Linked DNA regions of Homo sapiens: region 1 is linked to region 2. A link means that fine-mapping ties the variant in region 2 to the expression of a gene that starts in the linked region. Tissue or cell type: aorta. Region 2 holds a variant in brackets; the other region holds the start of a gene. All regions are shown on one strand. Distances are between the middles of the regions.

Region 1 (8,152 bases), 36 kb before region 2:
ATCCGCCCGCCTCAGCCTCCCAAAGTGCTGGGATTACAGAAATGAGCCACCGCGCCCGGCCTAATTTTCATTAGAGTCTTCATCATTGTTATTTTAAAAGGTGAAAAATTAGGCCCAGCCAACATGGCGAAACCCCGTCTCCACTAAACAAACAAAAATTAGCCAGGCATGGTGGCAGGAGCCTGTAATCCCAGCTACTTGGGAGGAGGCTGAGGCAGGAGAATCACTTGAAACCCAGAAGGCGGAGGTTGCAGTGAGCCGAGATAGCACCACTGCACTCCAGCCTGGGCAACAGAGTGAGATTTGGTGTCAAAAAAAAAAAAGTGCAAGATCAGTCTCCTTAGGAAAACTCCCAAGAGGAGTAGGGATGTGTTTTGAGCAAGGACAGAAAGGAGACGCATCCCCAGTGGGTTCCTTCAGGTGGACCCGCCTCCCTGGATGTGAAATTCTGGGGTGCTTGCTGATGGGCGCACGATTACGTCAATGTTTATCACACTTTACAAAAGGACGTGCGTGTGTGTGTGTGAATGAGTGTGCGAGTGTGTGTGAGTGAATGTGTGTGGGGGTGACTGTGTGTGTGTGAGTGAGGGTGTGTGAATGTGTGTGGGGGTGAGTGTGTGAGTGTGTGTGTGAGGGTGTGTGAATGTGTGTGGGGGTGAGTGTGTGGGGGTGATTGTGAGGGTGTGTGAATGTGTGTGGGGTGAGTGTGTGAGTGTGTGAGTGTGTGGGGGGTGAGTGTATGAGTGTGTGTGAGTGTGTGGGGTGACTGAGTGTGAGGGTGTGTGAATGTGTGTGGGGCGAGTGTGTGAGTGTGTGAGTGTGTGTGAATGTGTGTGTGGGGGGGGTGTGTGGGTGAGTGTGTGAGTGTGTGTGAGTGTGTGGGGGTGACTGAGGGTGTGTGAATGTGTGTGGGGGTGAGTGTGTGAGTGTGTGAGTGTGTGAGAGTGTGTGGGGTGAGTGTATGAGAGTGTGAGAGTGTGTGTGTGAGAGAGAGTGTGTGAGAGTGTGTGTGTGTGTGTGTGTGTACACAGATGTCAGGAGGCTACTCTCTCACTCCTGGAGCAGAACTCCTGAACGGGGCCCAGGAAGGCTTCAGTGAGAAGAGGAATTGGCTCAATTGCACCTTCCCTGTCAGCCCCGTAGGGTTTCCTGACACCCAGTGAGACGCCAAGGATGAAAGGGCTGTGGGGCAGAGATATGAGGAGGATGTTTCTCCTTCCCCTGGGCTTCGGCTTGAACTTGCTTATGCTTCTGAGGTTTCTTCCCCGCCCCACCTCACCCCCCAAAGGACCCCTCATGGGCAGGTCCACTCCCCCGCACTGTTCACATCCCTGTCCTCTCTCAGCATCCCTCGCATGTAGGGTGCTCAAAGGTTGGGGTCACCGCCGGGAGCCCAAATCCGCTGCTGCCTCCCTCGGGCTCCCTCCACTCTGGTCATTCCCCTCATCACTACCTGCCACGAGGTGGCGCTGAGACTCCAGCATCCCACACGGGCGGAGCAAACGTGGGTCCCTAATTACCCCCGACCCCAGCCCGCCCAGGCAACCTCGTGCCAGGGACTACTCTGGGGACTTCTTAGTTTTTTCTTTCCTCCTTTTATTCCATCAAGAATTTAACATATAGCCGGGTGCGGTGGCTCACGCCTGTTATCCCTGCACTTTGGGAGGCCGAGGTGGGCAGATCACCTGAGGTCAGGAGTTCAAGACTAGCCTGGCCAACATGGCGAAACCCTGTCTCTACTAAAAATACAAAAATTAGCCGGACGTGGTGGTGGATGCCTGTAATCCCAGCTACTCGGGAGGCTGAGGTAGGAGAATCGCTTGAACCCGGGAGGCAGAGGTTGCAGCAAGCCTAGAGCCAAGATCACAACACTGCACTCCAGCCTGGGCAACAGAGCAAGACTCTATCTCGTGAGCCACCGTGCCCAGCCTGAAACCCCAATTTTTATATGAAATGAATTTTTAAAATCATGTGTTGAGGCCGGGCGCGGTGGCTCATGCCTGTAATCCCAGAACTTTGGGAGGCAGAGGCGGGTGAATCACCTGAGTTCAGGAGTTTGGGACCAGCCTGGCCAACATGGTAAAACCCCATCTCTACTAAAAATACAAAAATTAGCCAGGCGTGGTGGTGCATGCCTGTAATCCCAGATACTCAGGAGGCTGAGGCCGGAGAATCGCTTGAACCTGGGAGGCGGAGGTTGCAGTGAGCCGAGATCGCGCCACTGCACTCCAGCTTGGTGACAGAGCGAGATTCTGTCTCAAAAAAAAATTTTTTTAATTTTCTACTAGGCACATTTTTAGAACGTAAAAATAAGCAGATGAAATCAATAATGTTGATTTTAATAACGTTTTATTTATCCCAATATATCCAAAATATTATCCTTTCAATATACAATCAATAAAAAGTATTAATGAGATATTTTCCATTCTTTTTGTGTTTGGACCCAGTTTTCGATGTCTTGTGTGTATTTTACATCTCAACTTGGATGAGTCACATTTCAAGGGCTCGGAAGCCACATGTGGCTAGGGGCTACCGAATTGGGCTGGGTAGCTGTCGTCCCTCCACCCAGGGGTCAGCTCCAAGGCTGTACCATGGCATTCTGCCCAACTGGATACCGGCTTGGAGCCTAAGGGGTCTCAGGGACCCACCTAGCCACCCTGTGAAGGAGCTTTCCTGTTATACAGGATTATCGTATTTCTGGACGCTCATAAGCAGGGGAGCCCAGCTCGCTCCCAGGCCCCACACCTGGCCTCCCTGAGGACTGAGAGGAGGACGAGGCGGCTCCCCAAGGTCTTCATTTTGCAAATAACAATGGGTTTCCTTTATTGAGCACAATTCTCTCTCTCTCTCTCTTTTATTTTTTTGAGAGGAGTCTCACTCTGTCACCCAGGCTGGAGTGTAGTGGCATGATCTCCACTCACTGCAACCTCTGCCTCCCGGGTTCAAGCAATTCTCCTGCCTCAGCCTCCTGAGTAGCTGGGATTACAGGCATGTGCCACCACACCCAGCTAATTTTTGTATTTCTAGTAGAGACGGGGTTTCACCACATTGGTCAGGATGGTCTCAATCTCCTGACCTCGTGATCTGCCCACCTTGGCCTCCCAAAGTGCTGGGATTACAGGCGTGAGCCACCATGCCCAGCCTGAGCAAAATTCTTAATTTAATATAGTCAAATTTATGAAACCTGCAAAGTTCTCCCAAAGCCACAAACATTGTTTTTTATTTGTTTGTTTGTTTGTTTGTTTTTAGTTGGAGTCTCATTCTGTCACCCAGGCTGGAGTGCAGTGGTGCAACCTTGGCTCACTGCAACGTTCGCTTCTTCCCAGGTTCAAGTGATTCTCCTGCCTCAGTCTCCAAAGTAGCTGTGGTTACAGGCACCCACCACCACGCTAATTTTTGTATTTTTAGTAGAGACAGGGTTTTGCCATGATGGCCAGGCTGGTCTCGAACTGCTGACCTCAAGTGATCCACCTGCCTCAGCCTCCCAAAGTGCTGGGATTACAGGCATGAGTCACCGTGCCCGGCTGAGTTTTCAAATCTTATTCATTTCCAGGTGTCCTTTCAGCCCCATATCTCCCACTGAGCTGTGCGGCAGGATCTCGGCTCACTGCAGCCTGGACCTCCCAGGCTCAAGCGATTCTCCTCCCTCAGCCTCCCAAGTAGCTGGGATTACAGGCATGTACCACCACGCCCATATATTTTTTGTATTTTTTGTAGAGATGGGATTTTGCCATGTTGCCCAGGCTGGTGTCAAACTCCTGGGCTAAAGCAGTCCTTCTGCCTCGGCCTCCCGAAGTGCTGGGTTTATGGGCATGAGCCATGGCATCCCGCCTGATCGTAGGATTTTAAACTATTTCATACAACCACTTTCAAACCACACACACACATCCGTGGCGGCTCCAGATCACACTTGTAAAACAATGTAAGGAGGGGCGTCAGGAATATAGAAAGAGATGCCGAGGATAGAGAAGAAGGCAGAGACAGAGGGAGAAAACCTAAGAGAGAACAAAGGAGGAGAATCCGATAGGACAAACAGCCTGAGGCCCTTCCGAGCTGGCATCTGCCCGGAGCAGCTGACCTAGGGGCTCTCTGCCACCGGCTCTTTAGCACCCCAGAATCGTTCTGATGGGCATGAGGTGGACCCAACACTCCCCCTTATCCTCTTCCCCACCTGGTGGTGAGCTACGTAGAAACCTACTCATGGGGCCCTGCTGGTCCATGCAGGGTCCAGGCAGGATCCAGGGGCTACCCTGGTGCTCACATCTCCCCTTCCCTTCTGGAGTCGGGAGCCAGGCTTTGGCCTGGATGCTCCCAGCGGTTGGGGGTCAGGGTCTGGGTGGGATGTAATAGGGGGCCCTAAGGTCCAGCATTTCCCAACAGAAAGAAAGAAGTACACGCTTGCTTTGGAAGAAGCAGCGGAGGGCTCAGTTCCCAGGACAGCTGAAGACACATCCCTGTGGGGCCCAAAGTGTCTTTCTCCCCATCCAGAGACCCTGCCCAGAGGAGCAGGCCCTGGAGCTGCAACAGAAACCGGAGGCTGGCCCAAGTCCCTCTGGGCTGGGCTGGGCTGGGCTGGGCAGAGCTGGGCTGGGCTGGGCTGGGCTGGGGCAGAGGCAAAATCCTGCCAGGGTGGTTCTCTGGGGAGAGGGGAATTGAAAAGGAAAAGCATCACCAAGGAGGGGGAGAGGGAGGGAGGCCGTGTGCGCACACGCACACACACACACACACACACACACACACACACACAGCCTCCCTGACTGAGCCTGAGCCTCCCTGGGAAGAGGCGCATTCTTCTCTCTGCTCTCTGAGCTTTCCGTTGCTTCCCTGCCCATCTGTGCTCTCAGCAGCACCAGCAAAGTTGGCCTCAAACTTGAACAAAGCTGCAGGCTCCAGCGTCTTTCTGGGAGCTCCGCGGGGGCAGCAGGCAGGCCCCAGCCTCTGAACTCAGCTGGCTTGAGAAGCTCAGCCCAACCCTTCCAGCACCCAGCCGGCCCTCCGTCTCCTGAGGGACGCCCCTGCCCCCGACCTGGAGGCCCTCAGTCTGGGCTGGGGAATGGCGCGCTGAGGTCCCTCCAGAGCCCCTTGTCCCAGCCTGGAGCTGCAGCCGCGCAAGGCCCAGGCCCCCATGGCCCACCCGGTGCAGTCCGAGTTTCCTTCAGCACAGGAGCCAGGCTCCGCCGCATTCCTGGACCTGCCGGAGATGGAGATACTCCTCACCAAGGCAGAGAACAAGGATGACAAGACCCTGAATCTGTCCAAGACCCTCTCGGGGCCTCTGGATCTGGAGCAGAACAGCCAGGGCCTACCCTTCAAGGCCATCTCCGAGGGGCACCTGGAGGCCCCACTGCCTCGGTCCCCCTCCCGGGCCAGCTCAAGGAGGGCGTCCTCCATCGCCACCACCTCCTATGCCCAAGACCAAGAAGCCCCCAGAGATTACCTCATCCTGGCCGTCGTCGCCTGCTTCTGCCCCGTCTGGCCCCTCAACCTCATCCCCCTCATCATTTCCATCATGGTAAGTGCTGGTCTTTGTTCCAGGGGCAGGGGCTGGGCCCAGGGGTCGGCAGGTGTTTCCCCCAGGCAGGCACCAAACACTGCCCAGGGTGTGGAGAAGAGAGAGCTGGGAGTGGGGGGCTTGGGGAAGACTCCTTTCCTCACTGGCCTCCTCCTTCCTCTTAGAGAGGGGCCCCGGGGCTGGAAGAGCTCCTGCTCTGTTCTCTCATCTCTGCTTCTGGGCATCAGAGCTCGACTTTGCACCTGTGTCTGCTGGGGAGGGGCCCTCAGGGAGCTGCCTGGCGATACATCCCGCGGGGCAGAAAGATAGCCAGGCTGGGGGTCTTGCTGTTTTAGGAGGGACGGGCGGTCCCAAAGGGTCATCGCCAAGTGGGGCTGTCTCAGCAGAGGTTGCACCGGACGGGGGTCCCAGCGCCCATGTGTCCTCCCAGGCCACCTGGACATGCTCCCAGCCTCTGCCGGCTCCGGTTTCCAAGAGTCGCAGCGGCTTCCCTGCCGTACCCTGAGGGCTCCGGGGCCAGGCTCCCCCGAGGGGCGCACAAAGCGGGGAGAGCTGGCAGACTGCTCCTCCCGAGGCGTGGAGTTCCCTCCGGAGCCCTCTGCAGCTCCACAGCTACGCTGACTTCAGCCTCGTCTTCAGGGCAGGGGAGGTCTGGGTCACAAGTGAAAAATGTGAGAGTCAGAGGGCATGGCCTGCCATGCCCAGGAAGGGGCATGGGGCCGGGTCTGTACTTCCATGGGATTTTGAATGAATTGTCTTAGATTGTCTCCAACCCAAGCCCTTTGGGTAGAGCTACTTATAAAGGATTCCATAGAAAATGTCAGCAGATATTGGCAAGTGACTTTTGAAGTCCAGGAAGAAGCGAGAGTTATGAAAGGGTGGGGAGAGGGAGAAGCAGGGCTCAGCAATGATTTCAGAGTGAGGTCAGGGGCAGGGGGTAGAAAACTGCTGGCCCAGGCTGGTCAGGGCCAGAGGACTAGGTGTGGAGGGGGGTTCCCAAGAGTGACTCCCTGCAGAGTCACCATCACCGAACCCCCAGGAGCTGTCCTCTGAGAAAGCTCCTATTTCTTCAAACCACTCTGTCTACCTCAGGGAGGCCCAGTCTCCCAGCAGGGAAGCCTTCCCCATCCCACCAAAGCCAGTACTACCTTTCAGGACATCAGGGGGCACTGGCAGCCTTCCTGAGTCTGAGGGACTTGGCATGGGCTGTGGAAGCAGGGCCGGGCAGGGGCCTTCCGGGCAGCTCTCTGTGATGCCTGCTGTACCTGGGGACCGCTTGCAGGTAAAGCCAGGACCCAGGGGTGCAGCCAGTGGCTGTGGGCAGGGCCTGCCTCTTGGTTACAGGGAAAGGCCCCAGGAGGGGAAACTGGATTTGGGGAGGGAAGCTACCCAAGGGCTCAGGAGAAAACAGCTGCTGGAATCCATCTCCTGGTGGGGTGGCAGGGTGCAGGCTGGGCAGGACCTGCCTCTGACAAACAGAGCCTAAGCCCAAGGCAATGAGACCACAGAACCTGCCCCAGTGAGTTTCTATATATACATATACATACATGTACATATATGCACATACATGTACATATATGCACACGTGTACATATATGTACATATATACAGATATACACATATGTACATATACATATGTACATATATACACACATATGTACACATATGTACATGTATACACATATATACATATATGTACATATATACGTATATGTGTACACATAAATGCACATATGTACATATACACGCATATATGTACGTATACACGTGCATATATGTACGTATACACGTGCGTATATGTACGTGTACACGTGCGTATATGTACGTATACACGTGCGTATATGTACGTATATGCACGTATATGTACGTATATGTACATATATGCACGTATATGTACATATATGTACGTATATGTACATATGCGTATATATGTACATATATGTACGTATATGTACATATGCGTATATATGTATATATGTACGTATATGTATATATATTTTAAGACAGAGTCTTGCTCTGTCACCCAGGCTGGAGTGCAATGGTGCGATCTCGGCTCACTGCAACCTCTGCCTCCCAGGTTCAAGCAGTTCTCTTGCCTCAGCCTCCTGAGTAGCTGGGATTACAGGAGCCCACCACCACACCTGGCTAATTTTTGTATTTTTAGTAGAGACGGGGTTTTACCATGTTGGCCAGGCTGGTCTTGAACTCCCGACCTCGTGATCCACCCACCTCGGCCTCCGAAAGGGCTGGGATTACAGGTGTGAGCCACTGAACCTGGCCTGTTTCTATATTCTTTAAAGGTTTTGTTTTGTTTTATTTGAAACGGAGCCTCGCTCTGTCGCCCAGGCTGGAGTGCAATGGTGCGATCTTGGCTCACTGCAAACTCCGTCTCCCAGGTTCATGCAATTCTCCTGCCTCAGCCTCCCAAGTAGCTGGCATTACAGGCGCTGGCCACCATGCCTGGCTAATTTTTGTATTTTTAGTAGAGACGGGGTTTCTCCATGTTGGTCAGGCTGGTCTCAAACTCCTGATCTCAGGTGATCCTCCCACCTCGGCCGCCCAAAGTGCTGGGATTACAGGCAAGTGCCCACCACACTCGGCCCCTTTTACGTTTTTGAGTCAGGTGTGATGAATACCAGG
Region 2 (8,191 bases):
ACATCGAGCTACACGCTGTCATCAGACAGATCAGGAAAACGGAATGACATCGAGCTACACGCTGTCATCAGACAGATCAGGAAAACGGAATGACATCGAGCTACACGCTGTCATCAGACAGATCAGGAAAACGGAATGACATCGAGCTACACGCTGTCATCAGACAGATCAGGAAAACGGAATGACATCGAGCTACACGCTGTCATCAGACAGATCAGGAAAACGGAATGACATCGAGCTACACGCTGTCATCAGACAGATCAGGAAAACGGAATGACATCGAGCTACACGCTGTCATCAGACAGATCAGGAAAACGGAATGACATCGAGCTACACGCTGTCATCAGACAGATCAGGAAAACGGAATGACATCGAGCTACACGCTGTCATCAGACAGATCAGGAAAACGGAATGACATCGAGCTACACGCTGTCATCAGACAGATCAGGAAAACGGAATGACATCGAGCTACACGCTGTCATCAGACAGTCAGGAAAACCGTGAATTACGTCGAGCTAAACGGAGCATGACAGTAAGATTTCTCAGAGACCTTCATACACCCACGTGCACCATGTACCTCCAAGAAAGGGTGGATTATGCAGTATTTCCTAAATTCGATGGGTTGCCAAGCCCCTTCTTTGAGAAATATTTTCTTGTAAAGCTAAGTTTTAGATTTGCAAACCCAAGTATTTCCGTTATTAAAAACTCTGTATACAAAAAATTATCTGTAAACATCCTTTTAAGACGGCTGGATAATGCATATACATGATAACTTATTTATTTACTTATCCTTTCTCCCATTGTGAGGCATTAAGGTGTCCAGTTTCTCTCTCTCCCATTTTTTTCCTGCCTATAATTTTTGATGTTGTTGTTTTGAGATAGAGTTTCACCCTTGCCCAGGCTGGAGTGCAATGGCGAGATCTTGGCTCACCATAGCCTCCGCCTCCCGGGTTCGAGCGATTCTCCTGCCTCAGCCTCCCAAGTAGGTGGGACTACAGGCATGCACCACCACGCCCGGCTAATTTTTGTATTTTTAGTAGAGACGGGGTTTCACCACGTTGTCCAGGCTGGTCTTGAACTCCTGACCTCAGATGGTCCGCCCGCCTCGGCCTCCCAAAGTGCTGGGATTACAGGCGTGAGCCACTGTGCCCGCTCCCTACCTATAATTTAAACACAGGGTTTAGGCACTGGGGGAGTGAATTCTGAAGGTGCTTCAAAAGCAGCCCTTGCTGTGGAGGCCCCACTGGGTCCACCCACTCCTGAGCCAGGGAGAAGAAGGCAGCCTGGGCTTTGCCTCCTCACTGGGTCAGCTGACTGGGTCGCCATGGCAACCACACAGGCCTGGAAGAGGGAGGGTGCTCCTGGGATGGGGCTAGACGTGGAAGCCCCAGGGCCAGGTGGCTGGGAGCCTGGGACACTGGGGCTGACCAGACCAGATGGCTGGGGGACCCCCTGGGAATGGGGGGCTAAACTGCCTTTGGAAAGTGCCAGATGAACACAGGTCTCAGCCAGAAGCCTCAGACAGAGCCCCTTTCCTTCGTGGTAAGCCATTTGGAGGACCGGTGGCTGTAGCGAGATATCCGGTGAAGAGGCACCACGGATGCTGGAAAATCTGGGTAATGGGATTGAACCTGGATCTAATAATAAGCAAGTGTGATTTGCTCTCACCTGTAAAACCAGACCCCCACAGTCTTCCCAGAACTCATCCATCTGTTGGGGGCTTTGGGAAGTCCCAGCCTCCAATCTGCTCTCTGCCCCAGTAGGAATGCTCTCACCTCCCCAGTGGGAATGCTCTCACCTCCCCAGTGGGAATGCTCTCACCTCGCCAGTGGGAATGCTCTCCCCTCCCCAGTGGGAATGCTCTCACCTCCCCAGTGGGAATGTTCACCTCCCTAGTGGGAATGCTCCCTCCCCAGTGGGAATGCTCTCACCTCTCCAGTGGGAATGCTCTCACCTCTCCAGTGGGAATGCTCTCACCTCCCCAGTGGGAATGTTCCCCTCCCCAGTGGGAATGCTCTCACCTCCCCAGTGGGAATGTTCCCCTCCCCAGTGGGAATGCTCTCACCTCCCCAGTGGGAATGTTCTCACCTCCCCAGTGGGAATGTTCTCACCTCCCCAGTGGGAATGTTCACCTCCCCAGTGGGAATGTTCTCACCTCCCCAGTGGGAATGTTCTCACCTCCCCAGTGGGAATGTTCACCTCCCTAGTGGGAATGCTCCCTCCCCAGTGGGAATGTTCCCCTCCCCAGTGGGAATGCTCTCACCTCCCCAGTGGGAATGTTCTCACCTCCCCAGTGGGAATGTTCACCTCCCCAGTGGGAATGCTCTCACCTCCCCAGTGGGAATGTTCTCATCTCCCCAGTGGGAATGCTCTCACCTCCGCAGTGGGAATGTTCCCTAGTGCAAAGGGCAGATTGGAGGCTGGGTCGCCAGAAGCAGATGAGCCCTCGTTCCTGCCTTCGTATGTGCTGGTGTTTTCAAAGTTTCCCCACTTGTTTTTCACTGGATAGAGGCTTTTCTTCCACAAATTTCTCAATTTGGTTTGAATTTTATGTTCCTCAAGGAAGTGGCAAGAGGGTGCCCTTGTACACAGTTGACTGTCAGGGGAAGGTGTTTCTGGGTGAGAGGAGAGCCTGGTCTTCTTGGGACATTTCCAGGAATGCAGGAGCAAGACTATGGTGCAAGGACCAGGTCCCAGAGGCCCCTGTCTGATGTTGCAACGCTTGCCCTGACTCTCTAGGGCAACCATCATCCGCAAGAACTTTCTGTGCTCCCTGGCCCATGTCAGATTCACTTTGTTTTTTTTTTCCTTCCTCCAAGATGGAGTCTAGCTCTGTTGCCTACGCTGGGGTGCAGTGGTGCGATCTTGGCTCATTGCAACCTCCGCCTCCCGGGTTCAAGCAATTCTCCTGCCTCAGCCTCCTGAGTAGCTGGGATAACAGGCATCTTCCACCACGCCCGGCTAATTTTTGTATTTTTAGTAGAGACGGGGTTTCACCATGTTGGCCAGGATGGTCTCGAACTCCTGACCTCATGGTCTGCCCACCTCGGCCTCCCAAAGTGCTGGGATTACAGGCATGAGCTACCGTGCCCGGCCGAGGTTCACTCTTTAAACTTATTTAAAACAAAACATTATGCTTGCCCTGACTCTCTCGGGCAACCATCCTCCGCAAGAATTTTCTGTGCTCCCCAGCCCATGTGAGATTCACTCTTTTTTTTTTTTTTTTTTTTTTGAGATGGAGTCTCGCTCTGTCACCCAGGCTGGAGTGCAGTGGCACGATCTTGGCTCACTGCAAACTCCGCCTCCCGGGTTCATGCCATTCTCCTGCCTCAGCCTCCCGAATAGCTGGGACTACAGGCACCCACCACTATGCTCGGCTAATTTTTTGTATTTTTAGTAGAGACGGGGTTTCACTGTGTTAGCCAGGATGGTCTGATCTCCTGATGTCGTGATCCACCAGCCTCAGCCTCCCAAAGTGCTGGATACAGGCGTGAAGAGATTCACTCTTTAAACTTATTTAAAACAAAACAGAAACCCCATCTAAGTTCTCTGCACCAAACTGATACCAGCCGTCGCTCATGGCTGGGGGAGTCGCTATGGGACTGGAGGTGAGAAAGGCAGTCTCCAGTTTTTATCCCATATACCTTGTTTCGTTGGAACCTTACACCAAGCATTTATAGATGTATTACCTTTATCATTTATAATTTAATTGAAAAAATAGGAATGTCTGAGGGAGAACAGATGATTCCCTGTAATCCATTAGCTGAAGCAATCAATGTGAAGAGCTGAACATTTTTCTTCCGGGCTTTTAAAAAGAAATTTGTGACATACAGCTATAGTCGCTTTATAATAAAAGGGCTCTAGTAAGTGGCCTTTGCATGGTAGCTGGACTTCGAGGGGCTTTTAAGTAGCAGATCCCTTCTATCTCCCACAAACCTGCCTCCTTAAGATGCATCAGCCTCACCTGACTGAAATGACACCAAAACACCAGGCGGCCTGAGCTGCTGGAGGGGCTGGAAGCCCTGAGAAGCTCCCTCTCCCCGGCCGGGCACGGTGGCTCACGCCTGTAATCCCAGCACTTTGAGAGGCCGAGGCGGG[C/A]GGATCATGAGGTCAAGAAATCAAGACCATCCTGGCCAACATGGTGAAACCCCGTCTCTACTAAAAATATAAATATTAGCTGGGTGTGGTGGCACACGCCTGTAGTCCCAGCTATTCGGGAGGCTGAGACAGGGGGATCGCTTGAACCCGGGAGGTGGAGGTTGCAGTGAGCCGAGATCGCGCCATTGCACTCCAGCCTGGTGACAGAGTGAGACTCCATCTCAAAAAAAAAAAGCTTCCTCTCCCTCCAGGACAGAGCTCTCCAGAAAAGCCTCTCCCCCGCTGCCCTCCCCAGGCTCCCGTCTTCCTGACCTTTGCTTTGGATCTGGTTCTTGCTCTTGGCCCTCGCCCTGGAGCTGGATGCTTTGGTCGGGCTCTTGCCTCCAGCGTCTCCTTTGCTATCAGCCTGCCCTCCCATTGCCCCAGTTGGAGGCAGGGCTGCCAGCTCCAGCCTGGCCAGTGGGGAAAATGGATGCGTCTACCTCCTGGTTCCCTGCTGAGGTCAGAGGCCCTTTCCGACCTCCTAAGCCACTCAGGGGGCCCGTGGCTGTACAGGATATCCAGTGAACAGGCACCACGGATGCTGGAAAATCCAGGTAATGGGATTGAACCCGGATCTAAGAACGGGCCAGTGTGATTTGCTCTCACCCTTAAAACCAGACCCCACAGTCTTCCCAGAACTCATCCACCTGTTGGGTCTTTGGGAAGTCCCAGGGCACTGAGGTCTCAGGGTACAGAGGTCCCAGGCTTGGCTCCCTCTGGTTGTTAGCCCGTGCAGACATTCCAGGGTCTACAGACGCTCCCTGGAGAGGGGAACACGAGGTTCCAGGCAGGGCCCGGCTGCCCTCCCAGGGGAACCGAGCTGGAGGAACTCATGTTTTCATCATGGCCCGTGGGAGCCACTCATGGGCTGCTTAAACAGGCAGGAGGTAAACACACACCCCAGGCGACCAAGATCAGCGGCTCCCTGCACAGCGGGTTTAATTATAAGAGCAACATAATAGCGACAGGACAGAAAGGGGGGGAAATGGCAGGGAAAACCTCTCACCAGCCCACAGCCTCCACATTCCCACTGCCTGGCTGTGAACCTTCTCCCTCCTGGGTGACTTTGCCCAGGGGTGTGGAGTGGGTTTTTTCCTTTCTTAATTTCATTCCAATTGCAAAATTAATACAACGTCATTGCAGCAAACTTGGAAAATGCGAAAAGCCTGAAGAAGAAAACAACAATTTCTCTAAGTGGGTTTTTTTTTTTTTTTTGAGACGGAGTCTGGCTCTGTCACCCAGGCTGGAGCGCAGTGGCGCGATCCTGGCTCACTGCAACCTCCACCTCCCGGGTTCAAGTGATTCTCCTGCCTTAGCCTCCCAAGTAGCTGGAATTACAGGCACTCACCACTGGGCCCGGCTAATGTTTATATTTTTAGTAGAGATGGGGTTTCACCATGTTGGCCAGGCTGGTCTCGAACTCCTGGCCTCAAGTGATCCACCCTCCTCGGCCTCCCAAAGTGCTGGGATTACAGGCGTGAGCCGCCGCGCCCGGCCCCTGGGGTTGGTTTGTGCAGAAGCGAGAACCTGCTCAGGAGCTTGCAGCTGGTAAGAGTGGAATTAGAATGGGAACCAGATATAATAATAAAAGCTTCATCTTTTAGAAAAAGATCAAATCAGAAATATGGGTTACATTTGTAAAAGGCTTTCAATTAAAAAGAGGCTGTGAAGCACATCTTGGGAGGCCTAAAAGTCCTTTTCATTTGGATATTGTTTTATCAAAAGCCCTAGTTTGTGCTGATAAGAAAATGGATTTCACAAGATTGAATCTAACAAAAAGCTTTGGCTAGCTGATTAATTAGGTGAGTCACAGGTCTCCTGGGAGTTCAAAGTCAGGAGTTTAAAGACCCTATGAAAACACATAGGAAGCCGGGCTTGGTGGCTCATGCCTGTAATCCCAACACTTTGGGAGGCCAAAAAGGGTGGATCATGAGGTCAGGAGTTCGAGACCACCCTGGCCAACATAGTGAAACCCTGTCTCTACTAAAAATATAAAATTAGCCAGGCATGGTGGTGGGCACCTGTAATTCCAGTTACTCAGGAGGCTGAGGCAGGAAAATCGCTGGAACCCGGGAGGCGGAGGTTGCAATGAGCCGAGATCGCCCCACTGCACTCCAGCCTGGGCAAAAAGAGTGAAACTCCATTAAAAAAAAAAGAAAGAAAGAAAGAAAAAAGAAAAATGTAGTAATAGTTCACCAATCTCTCCATCACTTCAGATAAACTGGGCCAGGCACAGTGGCTCACACCTGTAATCCCAGAACTTTGGGAGGCCGAGGCAGGAGGATCACTTGAGCCTCAGAGTTTGAGACCAGCCTGGGGAACCCAGGGAGATCCCTTCTCTACAAAAAAATGCAAAAAAATATGAGCCAAGCATAGTGGTGCATACCGTAGTCCCAGCTACTTAGGAGTCTGAGGAGGGAGATTCATTTGAGTCCAGGAGTTGGAGGCTGCAGTGAGCCGTGATTGCGCCACTGCACTCCAGCCTGGGTGACAGAGCAAGACCCTGTCTCAAAAAATACATAAAAACATTAAAAGAATAAAAAATAAAGTTCAGACAGGCTAGGCACAGATGAATTAAATCCACAGTAAGTACTGTATTTTTATTTTCACCAAAAATGTCAATCTTATCCTCAGTGCTAATTTTCTGGGGGAAAACCACGAGCTACGCTGTTCTACTCTCAGAAGCTCCATTTTGCTCACATTCAGCTCTTTCTCTTTTTTTTTTTTTTTTTTTTTTGAGACAGATTCTCACTCTGTTGCCCAGGCTGCAGTGCAGTGGCGCGATCACTGCTCACTGCAACCTCCGCCTCCCGGGTTCAAGCGATTCTCCTGTCTCAGCCTCCCAAGTAGCTGGGATTACAGGTGCCCACCACCACACCCAGCTAATTTTTGTATTTTTAGTAGAGACAGGGTTTCACCATATTGTACAAGCTGGTCTCGAACTCCTCTTGACCTCAGGTGATCCACCTCCCTTGGCCTCCCAAAGTGCTGGGATTACAGGCATGAGCCACTGCGCCTGGCCTCAGCTCACATTTATTGAACATCTACTATGTGCCACTTACTTTCACATACATTTCATTTGACCCATGACAACCTATTTTATTTATGTATTTATTTATTGAAATGGAGTTTCGCTTTTCTTGGCCAGGCTGGAGTGCCACGGGTCGATCTAGGCTCACTGCAACCCCCACCTCCCAGAGTCAAGTGATTCTCCTGCCTCAGCCTCCCAAGTAGCTGGGATTACAGGCATGAGCCACCACGCCCCGCTAATTTCTTGTATTTTTAGTATAGACGGGGTTTCGCCAGGTTGGTCAGGCTGGTCTCGAACTCCCGACCTCAGCTGATTGGCCCGCCTCGGCCTCCCAAAGTGCTGGGATTATAGGCATGAGCCGCCTCGCCCAGCCCACCTTTTGGCTATTGTAAATATAATACTGCTGTGAACATGGGCTTGCAAAGATCTTTTTGAGATCCCGCTTTCAATTCTTCTGGGCATATACCCAGAAGCGGAACTGCTGGATCACATGGTAATTCTATTTTTAACTTTTTGAGGACTTGCCTTACTGTTTTCCATAGTGACTGCACTATTGTGCATTCCAACCGACGGTGCACAGGGGTTCTAGTGCCTCAGCATCCTCACCAGCACTTATTTATTTATTTATTTATTTATTTATTTATTTATTTATTTATTGAGATGGAGTCCCACTCTGTCGCCCAGGCTGGAGTGCAGTGGTGCAATCTCAGCTCACTGCAACCTCCTCCTCCCCAGATTCAAGTGATTCCCCTGCCTCAGCCTCCCGAGTAGTTGGCATTACAGCCGTCCGCCACGACGCCTGGCTGATTTTTGTACCTTTAGTAGAGACGGGGTCTCACCATGTTGGCCAGGCTGGTCTTGAACTCCTGACCTCTAGTGATCCGCCTGCTTTGGCCTCCCAAAGTGCTGGGATTATAGGCGTGAGCCACCGCGCCCAGCCAATACTTTTTTTTTTTGGAGACACGATCTTGCTCTGTTTCTTGGGCTGGAGGGCAGTGGCGTGATCACGGGTCACTGCAG

Alleles and levels. Alleles are on the strand shown, and positions count from the first base shown. SD is a standard deviation of normalised expression in the study named.
For the expression in aorta of the gene that starts at base 4,786 in region 1, A is the high allele of the variant in region 2 and C is the other (moderate effect, 0.57 SD a copy in GTEx).

Evidence for each region. PIP is the estimated chance that this variant, and not a neighbour inherited with it, causes the effect.
Region 1: it holds the start of TRARG1, and the variant in region 2 is fine-mapped to the expression of TRARG1 in aorta (GTEx, PIP above 0.99). The same link has a PIP of 0.9 or more in tibial artery.

Annotation. Positions count from the first base shown.
Region 1 is chr17:1,274,877-1,283,028 of GRCh38, forward strand. It overlaps TRARG1 (trafficking regulator of GLUT4 (SLC2A4) 1 (gene/pseudogene)), which reads left to right and starts at 4,786. Exons shown (of 3, transcript NM_172367.3): 1 at 4,786-5,512. The coding sequence starts at 5,126.
Region 2 is chr17:1,311,137-1,319,327 of GRCh38, forward strand. No RefSeq gene overlaps it. Among named protein-coding and RNA genes, the nearest start is that of TRARG1, 36 kb to the left of the region's middle. The variant C/A (reference allele first, on the strand shown) is at 4,099.